Homo sapiens: one gene and its partners. The protein of the gene in region 3 interacts with the protein of the main gene of each other region in a biochemical or structural test. Each region holds a gene or a part of one and is shown on either strand. Other genes may lie near its edges.

Region 1 (3,651 bases), on a different chromosome or scaffold from region 3:
TGATTTACATGTCAGCCCCAGGGTCCCACTGCCTCTCCCATACCTTTGATGAGAGTGGGGGTTCATCAAGAGCAGAAGCTGTAGTTTATTTGTCTGAAAGCCACCAGCACCCAAAATTAGTTAATAAATGTCAACTGGAACATGCAGTGTTAATGCATAGAGTCTCCCATCTGCAAAGGTCTTAGAAACCAGCAAGCCTAATCTCCAATTTTATTATTTGTTGATTTATTTTTGAGATAAAGTGTCACTCTCTTGCCCAGACTGCAGTGCAATGACCCAATCCTAACTCACTGGAACCTCAAACTCCTGGGCTCAAGTGATCCTCTAACTTCAGCCTCCTGGGTAGCTGGCACCACTGAGCCCAGGTGATTTTTTATTTGTTCTAGAGATGGGGGTATTGCTATGTTGCCCGGACTGGTCTCAAATTCTTGGCTTCAAGTGATCCTTCCTTCTTGGCCTCCCAAAGTGCTGGGATTACAGGCATGAGCTGCCATACCTGGCTAAACCTCTGATTTTAGATGAGCAAACTGAGGCCCACAGAGGTATGCTTAAAGTCACACAACCTATTTGGAGTAGAGCAAAGCTGGAGTTGCTGGCCGGGCGTGGTGGCTCACATCTGTAATCGCGGCACTTTGGGAGACTGAGGCAGTAAGACCATTCAAACTCAGAAGTTCCAGACTAGCCTGGGCAACATAGTGAGACCTCATCTCTAGAAAAAAAATCAAAAAATTAGCCAGGTGTGATGGGGCATGCCTGTAGTTCCAGCTACTTGGGAGGCTGAGGCAAAAAGATCACTTGAGCCCAGGAGCTCAAGGCTGCAATGAGCTACGATTGTGCCACTGCACTCCAGCCTGGATAACAGAGCGAGAGCCTGTCTCAAAAAAAAAAAAAAAAAGGCCAGGCGCGGTGGCTCACACCTGTAATCCCAGCACTTTGGGAGGCCAAGGCGGGTGGGTCACAAGATTAAGGGATCGAGACCATCCTGGCCAACATGGTGCAACCCTGCCTCTACTAAAAATCCAAAAATTAATCGGGCTTGGTGGCAGGTGCCTGTAATCTCAGCTACTCAGGAGGCTGAGGCAGGAGAATCGCTTAAACCCAGGAGGTAGAGGTTGCAGTGAGCCGGAATTGCGCCATTGCACTCCAGCCTGGCAACAGAGTGAGATTCCGTCCGTCTCAAAAAAAAAAAAAAAAAAAAAAAAAAGTCCGGGCACGATGGCTCATTCCTGTAATCCCAGCACTTTGGGAGGCTGAGGCGGGTGGATCACGAGGTCAGGTGTTCAAGACCAGCCTGACCAACATGGTGAAACCCCGTGTCTACTAAAAATACAAAAATTAGCCAGGCATGGTGGCACACGCCTGTAATCCCAGCTACTCAGGAGGCTGAGGCAGGAGAATCACTTGAACCCGGGAGGCAGAGGTTGCAGTGAGCCGAGATCAAGCCACTGCACTCCAGCCTGGATGACAGAGCGAGACTCCATCTCAAAAGAGCAGGCTGGGCACGGTGGCTCATGCTTGTAATCCCAGCACTTTGGGAGGCCAAGGTGGGTGGATCACCTGGGGTCAGAAGTTCAAGACAACCAGCCTGGCCAACAATGGTGAAACCCTGTCTCTACTAAAAATACAAAAAAAAAAAAAAAAAAAAAGTTAGCTGGGCATGGTGGCTGGAGAATTGCTTGAACTCAAGAGGTGGAGGTTGCAGTGAGCCTAGATCCTGCCACTGCCACCGCACTGTTCACTCCAACTTGGGTGACAGAGACTCTGTCTAAAAAGAAAAAACAAAAGAGAGACAGAGAGAGAGAATTCATGCTGGGTCTAAGTGGAAGCAGGGAGCAGTGGAAGTTTCTCATTAGCAAAACTCAGAAGACTGTCCCCATAGTTAGAGACCTAAGTTCAAATAGCAATTTTGACACTTACTGTGTGACTTTGCTGAAATCATTCCTCCTAAGCCTCACTTTTCCTCTTCTGTCAAATGGGGCTCTTCATCCATTTCTCATAAGCTCACATGAATGTTAGCTTAGTTTAGTGCTTAGAAACACTTTCACCAGTGCACAATTCTGTCCTACCAACTCCTGCTTTGGAAGGTGGAAGAATGGGACTGGGTAATTAATCTCCTTTGCTTTAGACTCCTGTTTCTTTCTTTTTTCTTTTTTTAATAGAGTCTCGGCTGGGCGCGGTGGCTCATGCCTGTAATCCCAGCACTTTGGGAGGCTGAGGAGGGCAAATCACATGGTCAGGAGTTCGAGACAAGCCTGGCCAACATGGTGAAACCCTGTCTCTACTAAAAATACAAAAATTAGCTGGGCGTGGTGGTGCGCGCCTGTAATCCCAGCTTCTTGGGAGGCTGAGGCAGGAGAATTGCTTGAACCATGGAGGTGGAGGTTGCAGTGAGCTGAGACCACGCCATTGCACTCTAGCCTAGGTGACAGAGCAAGATACCATCTCAAAAGAAAAAAAAACAGACAGAATCTCACTCTGTCACCTAGGCTGGAGTTCAGTGGTGTGAACTTGGCTCACTGGAACCTCCACCTCCCAGGTTCAAGTGATTCTCCTGCCTCAGCCCCCTGACTAGCTAGGACTACAGGCATGTGTCACCACGCCCAGCTAATTTTTGTAATTTTAGTAGAGATGGGGGTTTCACCATGTTGGCCAGGGTGGTCTTGAACTCCTGACCTCAAGTGATCCACCCACCTCAGCCTCCCAAAGTGCTGGGATTACAGGCGTGAACCACCATGCCCAGCCTAGACTCCTGTTTCTTTTCTCTCTTTCCTTTTTTTTTTTTTTTTAGACTTGCTCTGTTGCCCAGGCTGGAGTGCAGTGGTGTGATCTGGGCTCACTGCAAGCTCTGTCTCTCCTCCCTCAGCCTCCCTAAGCAGGTGGGACTACAGGCGTGCACCACCACGCCTGGCTAATTTTTGTATTTTGTGTTTTGTATTTTTAGTAGAGACAGAGTTTTGCCACGTTGGCCAGGCTGGTCTCGAACTCCTGACCTCAGCCTCCCAAAGTGCTGGGATTACAGGCAATGAGCCACTGTGCCCAGCCCTAGACTCCTGTTTCTTTTCTTTTCTTTTTTTTTTTTTTTTGAGACGGAGTTTTGCTCTTGTTGCCCAAGCTGGAGTGCAATGGCACGATCTCGGCCCACCGCAACCTCTGCCTCCCAGGTTCAAGCGATTCTCCTACCTCAGTCTCCCAAGTAGCTGGGATTACAGGCATGTGCCACCACGCCCGGCTAATTTTGTATATTTATTTATTTACTTATTTATTTATTTACTTTTATGGGTATCTGGTAAGTATATATGTTTATGGGGTACATGATATATTTTGATAGAGGCATACAATGTGTAATAATCACAAAAGGGATAAATGAGCTATCCATCACCTCAAGCAAGCCTCTTATTATTATTATTATTATAAAAACTAGCTGGGCATGGTGGTGCATGCCTATAATCCCAGGTGCTTGGGAGGCTGAGGCAGGAGGATCACTTGAGCCCAGGAGTTCAAGGCCACAGTGAGCTACGATTGCACCACTGCACTCCAGCCTGGGTGACAGAACAAGACCCCTTGTCTAAAGTAAATAAATAAATGAATAATAATAATAAATTTTTTTAAGTTTTGAAAAGAAGCCCAACATACTGCCAGGCATTTGCATTT
Region 2 (3,751 bases), on a different chromosome or scaffold from region 3:
CTAGACAAGGAAATGCTGGGGAAAACAGTATGCACATATAAAGTTATGACTGGTATTATTACATTTCCTTCCAAAGAGGTTTATCGTTTTTATCCCCACCAACAATGTAATGAGGGTCTACTTCCCAAACCCATGCTAACTCAATATATCTTTACCAGCCCAAAGGATGAAAAACAGTGTCTCACTGATTTAATTTGTATTTAATCTAAGATTAAATTTTAAGTTTTGTAAAACCAAGTTTATCTCTGTAATTGGAGAAAACATCATCCATTAACGTGAAAGGTAATAAGCTGATGAGACTAAATTCAAAGCAAAAGCTCGCTGAGAGGATCTGCCCAATGAGGAAGATGACAGTAGTGTCTGATTTTTTGCTCAGTGCCACCTCCTCCTTTTCCAACAGATAGCATTTGGGAGTGCTGAGTTATAAGAAAGTGTGGTGCGCTCGAGGCTTGCTTGAGGGTATGGAAATCTTGAGATAGGTCTGGAGAACCAGGGAGAGTTAAAAGAGAAAAAAAGTAAGAAAAAAAAAAGAACTTAAGGACTATCTGATCTGAGAGAGGCTTACAAAAATTAGCGTTTTGGTTCACTATTTCTCGCTATTTCTGCATTTCATTAACTGGCAGGGATCACTGGATACTCTGTCATGAATACATATGTTGGGTGTAGTTAGAGAACCTCAATGTCATTGAACCCGTCTTGTGGGTTTTTTGGAGAGAATGAGAGTATGCTGGGAGACATGCTCTGCTTGCAAATGATCAACCCCCGAGGCCAACCCCATTCATCATTTATTTTGAGGAACTGATGATCAAGACAGGAATATGTATGCCTGCCTACAAAATCCTCAAATCAGGCCACTGAATGTTCGACATGAGAACTTTGAATCACATAGAAGATACTCCAAAGGCAGAGAAAAATAGAAAGCCTTCCGACGCCCTGAAAAAATCTTGACCATCCCTGACTTCCCCCAATATGTAAGAAAACCTGTATTATTATTACACACACACTCCCACACACACCCCGCCCTCCCCCACACACACACCCTCTATCCTCACTCGATCTTATTCTATTCGCTCTATTTTTGAGCCTTGGATGTTAAAGTAAGGAACGAAGCTTAGTGGGGAAGCACTGAAGTGCATGGCGCAAATTTAGATTTAAGCCTCACGTTAGATTTCAGATTTGCACATCGAGTCCCGCCCCTATCCAATCCGGGGACGTCACCGCCCTAGTCTTCGGCTGTTTTAAAAGCAAGCGGTTTTTAAAACCCCCAATCCTGCTCTTTGTGTTGGCCTCCTCGGAGTTGCCCCTCTGCAAGCCAACAATTCGGGATAGAAAACACCTCCGTGGTGTTTTCCCGGGGCCCTCCCGCGCCGCGTTCGGCCGCCAGCCCGCTCGAGCTCCCGCGCCAACGCCTCAGGGGTTCGCCCTCCGCCCCCCGCCGCCGCGCCCGGCCCACGCGCAGGGCCCCTCTCCAGCGCCCCCTCCCCGGCACGCTGCGGCTGGCGCTCCCCAGCCCCGCCTGACGCTGCAGCTGGGCCGGAGACTCGCCATTGGATTAAAAATAGCGTCGCCAGTCCGCCCCAAGCCCGCGGTGCCCGCTCCCGCCCCGCAGCCCGCTCTCCCCGCCCGCCCCGGCTCGGCCGGCTGCCGTTGCCCGCGCAGCCCGCCCGTCAGCCCGCTCGCTGGCGCCGCCGCCGCCGGCAGACCCCGCGCTCCGGCTCCGGCTCGGCTCGCTCGGCTCCGGTGCGCGCCGAGGCCATGCAGCGCCGGGGCGCCCTGTTCGGCATGCCGGGCGGCAGCGGAGGCAGGAAGATGGCTGCAGGAGACATCGGCGAGCTGCTAGTGCCCCACATGCCCACGATCCGCGTGCCCAGGTCCGGCGACAGGGTCTACAAGAACGAGTGCGCCTTCTCCTACGACTCTCCCGTAAGTGAGGCGCCTCGGGGGAGGGTCGCGGGGCCGGCGGCCTGCGGCACGTGAAGCCGGGGGAGAAGATGCGCAGTGGCGGCCGGGACCTCTTCTCTTCCTCCGGGCGGCAGAGTTGGCTCAGGAACACTGCAGTTCGGCAGACACTTAGTGAGCGCCCCAGGGCTGCTGCAGCCGAGGACTGGCTCGTGCTGGTGGTTTTGCTCCGCCAGCCTCCCCAGGCTGGAAGGGCCCGATTCCCAGCAGCTTGCACACAGCCCCGCCGCCGTTTAAAGATAGATGAAATACAAGAGTTCCCTGTTCCGAACTGCACGTTGCAGATCGTTTGCGTCCTCCGCGGGGCAGAGCGCAGGGCGGGTAGGTGGACGGGATGATCCCCCCACACCCCGGGACACACACAGCCCTTCTTTTTCTGGGACCACTTGCTTTGCTCAGGGATCCCCACTTCTGGACAATTCTGATTTGCTCTCTGAGCTTTTCTTCCACCAGTTCCCATTTCACCCCACTCCTTTTCTTGTCTTTAGAATGTCAGGGCCAGGCGCGGTGGCTCACGTCTGAAATCCTAGCACTTTTTAAGAGGCGGAGGCGGGCGGATCGTTTGAGGTCAGGAGTTCGAGACCAGCCTGGCTAATATGGCGAAACCCCATCTCTACTAAAAAAGAACCCCAAAATTAGCCGGGCGCGGTGGCGGGAGCCTGTAGTCCCAGCTACTCGGGAGGCTGAGGCTTGAGAATCGCTTGAACCGGGAAGGAGGAGGCTGTAGTGGGCCGAGATCGCGCCACTGCCCTCCAGCCTGGGCGACAGAGCGAGACTCCGTCTCAAAAAAAAAAAAAAAAAAATGTCAGACGAAACCTTCCGGTGCCTCCACTCGGGCAGCAGAAATAGGGGATCTACTGGATTGCGATGGTTTTCTTAAGCCTTCCCCACCTTGCCCTTCTAAATGAGTCACTTGGACTGACATGCGCAAGTATAAATTATTAAAAGTTCAATCCCGAGTCGTGACCTCGGAGAATGAGGAGGAAGCTGAGAGGGATCGCCGCCTTCCACCCGGGGCGGTTGGTGGTGGTTTTCACCTGGTTCTATGTGAATGTGTGAGAAGCAGCAGGAGGGTGAATGTCCCTTTCAAAAGTCAAAATGGGCTTCAAAGTGACTCAGCTGTCTGGCGTTTATCATGTCTTTTTGAGGACCAGGTTATTTTTATCCACCCACTTTAGATCTCATATGTCACCCGGCAGATCTCAATGCATTGGGAGGCGCATGGATTGGATGGACCGAGGCAGGTCTCGCAATGGTCTAATGTATTTTATTCATAGCATGTGGACTATTGTCAGAGGGGAAAAGAAAAGTCCAAATGAGCGGCAACATTTCCAAAGTTTCCTTTATTATCTGTGGGTTGATTTTGGCTGGCTTCAAAGCACTTTTGCTCGACACACACTGGAGTATCAGAGTTAGTATCCTCTCTGTGACATTTAGTTTTTTTATTTATGGTAACTCCATATCATTTGAGGGATGAAACCTAACTTAATTTTTGATTGTTTACTTTTTTTTTCTTTCGAAAAGATCCACAGAGTGGAGTGTGACAATCGGCAGTCCTTTTTTAGGATGTTATCCATAAATTATTTGAAAATGCCATTTTCAGATTGTATGGCCAGTGTTGGGCAGTTCCCACTAATAGCTTCTAAAGGTGGAGAGGGATGATGGTCCTAACTTAAGCAATTGACAGATTGTTACCTCCAGGAAGAAGAAAGTGGCCTAAGTTTTTTAGGATAGCACAACATGGAAAGTGGGTCAAATGACTTTCCCCATGTTTTGATTTGGGCTCTTCTTC
Region 3 (3,651 bases):
CCACTGCACTCCAGCCCGGGCAACAAGAGCGAAACACTGTCTCAAAACAAAAAAATTAATAATTAAGTAACCAATCCCATAAAATATGAGCAAAAGACTTAAAGATATTTCGCCAAAGAAATTATATGAATGCCAAATGAAAAATGCTGATCACTAGCAATTACAGAAATGCAAATTAAAACCTGTGAGGTACCACTAAACACCTGTCACAATGACTAAAATTAAAAAGACTGACCATACACACTGTTAGCCAACATACTGGCAGAACTGGAACCCCCCAAACATCGCTGGTGGCAATGTAAAATGGTACAACCACTGTGGAAAACAGGGAGTTTCTTTAAAAGTTAGGCATACATCTACTACATGATCTAAACATTCCCCTATTAAGCATTTACCCAAGAGAAATAAAGGCGTATACCCATACAAAGACTTGTACACAAAGTTCAGAAGCTTTATTTGTAACAGTCAAAAAGCTGGAAACACACAGCTTCTGCCGTTTTTCAATGCCCACCAACAGGTAAACCAAAAAATTGTGATATGCCTACACAACAGACTAGCACTGAGCAATTAAAAAAAGAACATAATGTATTTACAAAAAAATTCTAAAAAACGCAAAGTAATCTACAGTGATAAAAAGATCAAGGATTTCCTGCAGGGAGAAGGGTGGAAGGAACAAGCAAGAAAGAGGGAAAAGGGACATGAGAAAACTTTTGGGGGTAATGGATAGGTTCACAATCTTGATTGTGGTGATGGTTTCATGGGTATACCTTCTTTTAAGAGTCTCCTGTGTCGCCCAGGCTGGAGTGCAGTAGCATGACCATAGGTCACTGCAGCCTCAAACATCTGGGCTCAAGTAATCCTCTCTGCTGCCTCAGTCTTTTGAGAAGCTGGGATTACAAAAGGTGTCTGAAATTATCAGGCAGTACATTTTAAAAACATGCAGTTTATTGTCAATTATACCTCAATAAAGCTATTTTTAAAAATTCCCCATCAATAAAACAGCCTGGAAAGATGTGAAAAAGATCCCTGGAAGGAAGGGAATGGAAGCCCGTATAGAAAAAAAGGAGTCTTAGAGGGCAATGCAAAATGTCAAATGTTAATTCTGAGTACGATAGTATTTAAGTGGTCTTTTTACTTTAAAAAAGTTGTCAAAAACACCAAGGAAAAACAGCAAGTGTTTGTGTGTACTAACTTGAGAATATATTAAATTTTTGTAAATTTTGTTTCAGGATTATGTCATGTATTCAAACATTTGATATCTGGTTCTCTAAATCGTGGGAATTTAGAAACAAAATCTTTTCCCAGAACTGGAGTAACATGAATACAGAAGCCAACATCTGTGCTCAGAGCAAGAAAAGTATCAACATCACTGGGCCTACTGTCAATCTATTTTTCCAAACTCTTCGCATTTACCACCTGTCACCTCCCTTCACAATTCTTCCTGACGCCTCCTTGGAGAAATGGTTGATTCTGGACCTGAGACAGGCAAAATGCAAGATGAGCCTGAAATACCTGGTAATTAATGAAAGAAAAAACATGCTTTTAAAAAACAGATAAGATAGGGAAGTGTCAAAAGGACAAAGGAGCCAAAAAAAAAAAAAAAAGCTGGAACAACATGAACAACAAAATAAACTGTGGCCAGCACAGTGGCTCACACCTGTAATCCCAGCACTTTGAGAGGCCAAGACAAGAGGATTGCTTGAGCCCAGGAGTGTGAGACAGCCTGGACGATATTTTATAAAAATATAAAATAAATAATAATCAAAAATAAGTAAACATCAGCAAGGATAATTGTGGATTACAACCCAAAGAATAAAATTAATATCCGTGGTCTATAGTGATATAAATGAAAAAAAGAAAAAACATGAAGAATACACAAATCTTCCTCACAGAAAATTTATACTGTAGAAGGAATGAGGAAAATAAAAAAAATCACCATTAGAACCCCGAAGTAATAATAGCTGCAGACGAGATCCATTAAAATGCTAAAATTAAGGAGGGGAACTTTATTTCCATGGCTTCGAAGCATCTCCCCCAAAATAATAACAGTAGCTTTAATATACTTCCACAAATTCACATTCTCCTCCCTCTAGAAAGTAGAGCCTAATTCCCCTCTCTCCTTGAGTGTGAGCTGGACTTGGTGACTAGCATCTAAGGAATAGTATCTAAAGGGGAAAAAAACACTAACCTGACAGATACCACCTGAACCAAATCATCAGGTTAAATTCAACCAGTTATATATTATGGACCCCCAATCTGATGTGATAAGGGTAATTTCTGTGGTATTCTTCCCCCAAAAATCTGTAACTTCAGTCTAATCCTTAACATCAAATCCAAATGAGATCAAGTGTCATGGTCACGAAAGACAAAAGGAAAGACAGAAACTGACACAGATCAGGAGACTACATACAATGTGGCATCTTGGACTGGATCCTAGAACAGAAAAAGGACATTAGTAGAAAAACTAAGGAAATCCAAATAAAGTCTTTCATTAACAGTATTTTATCGATGTTAATTTCTCAGTTCTGTTAAATGTACTTGGATTACATAAGATGTTAACAGTGGATAATGGGTATTCAAGACCTCTCTATTGCAACTCTTCCACAAATCTTACTTTATCTCAAAAATACTGTTTTCCTGAAAGAAAAAAAACTTCAGGAATCAGAATACTTAACAACTATCTTTTATCTTAGTGTATCCCTTCCCCACTCCAAAGTTAAAACCTACTCAGGTTCACAATTTAAAAAAATCTTTGTTCTTTCTCATCACGTGAAAAGATATGTTACAGTTAATACTAATGCTCATCCGCAAAATTCTTAAACAGATCAAGACAGGTGGATACACTCCAGGGAAATCTAGGCAACCTCAGTGCAGAAACAAGGGTGTACTTAAGGCACAGCCTATGGCTTTGCATAAACAGCATATGGGAGAAGCCTGCAAGGGCAGGCAGGTGTCACATTCATACATTCCAGATTCAAAATCCCTCTAAGATTTTTCAATTAAGGAAATAAGCTGGCTATAGTACCCTATTAGGTACCACATGCTTTTCAAAATAGTTTTGACAATTCGGTTTCAGAGCTCCAATTCACTTTTTAGTAAAAGTATGGTAATACCAAAGATGTGTGAAAGCACTCTCTAAATATGCAAAAGGTTACACAAATACATAATGATGCTTTATATAGCCAGTGAAGTTAATAGCCACCAAAGATTACATCCCTACTAAGTAGATGTGTATACCATCCAGGAAGCCAAATTTCTGTCAATCATCTTTAATCTTTACTTTTGATTAAGTACCTAAGATACAACACACATACCAAGAACTTATTACATGACAGACTGGCCACCTGACAGAAGAGGGACTCTATCACAAAGTCGCCTAAAGACCTTATTTACTAAGCTACAGGCTGTGAGGGCAATTTTTTTGAAATTGCTTTCCACCTTGTAAGACAGAATATTAAGACACTATTCGTGTGTGTGAATTATTCCTACTCTTAACCCTATCACCTGGCTTGCAACTTGACCTTCCCAACTAAAGACAGACAGGATGTCCAAGAATACTTTTTTAAAAAAAGTAAATAGCTGATTTCTGAGATATAAAATTATAAACCTAGTGTGCCACCACATTGTGATCACCAACTACATGTAAGATAA

The links.
Region 1: of the proteins of G3BP1 (region 3) and LCK, one has a biochemical effect on the other in vitro, tested with the Homo sapiens proteins (one study listed by BioGRID).
Region 2: the proteins of G3BP1 (region 3) and USP13 interact in a test that uses a peptide from one of them, tested with the Homo sapiens proteins (one study listed by BioGRID).

What each region holds. Positions count from the first base shown.
Region 1 is NC_000001.11:32,268,246-32,271,896, reverse strand, and holds part of LCK (tyrosine-protein kinase Lck), read right to left. Parts: intron 1-3,651. UniProt on the Homo sapiens protein: Non-receptor tyrosine-protein kinase that plays an essential role in the selection and maturation of developing T-cells in the thymus and in the function of mature T-cells. Plays a key role in T-cell antigen receptor (TCR)-linked signal transduction pathways.
Region 2 is NC_000003.12:179,651,471-179,655,221, forward strand, and holds the start of USP13 (ubiquitin carboxyl-terminal hydrolase 13), read left to right. Parts: upstream 1-1,569; 5' UTR 1,570-1,755; coding exon 1,756-1,923; intron 1,924-2,187; exon of another isoform or gene 2,188-2,202; coding exon of another isoform or gene 2,203-2,280; intron 2,281-3,751. UniProt on the Homo sapiens protein: Deubiquitinase that mediates deubiquitination of target proteins such as BECN1, MITF, SKP2 and USP10 and is involved in various processes such as autophagy, endoplasmic reticulum-associated degradation (ERAD), cell cycle progression or DNA damage response.
Region 3 is NC_000005.10:151,774,851-151,778,501, reverse strand, and holds part of G3BP1 (ras GTPase-activating protein-binding protein 1), read right to left. Parts: intron 1-3,651. UniProt on the Homo sapiens protein: Protein involved in various processes, such as stress granule formation and innate immunity. Plays an essential role in stress granule formation.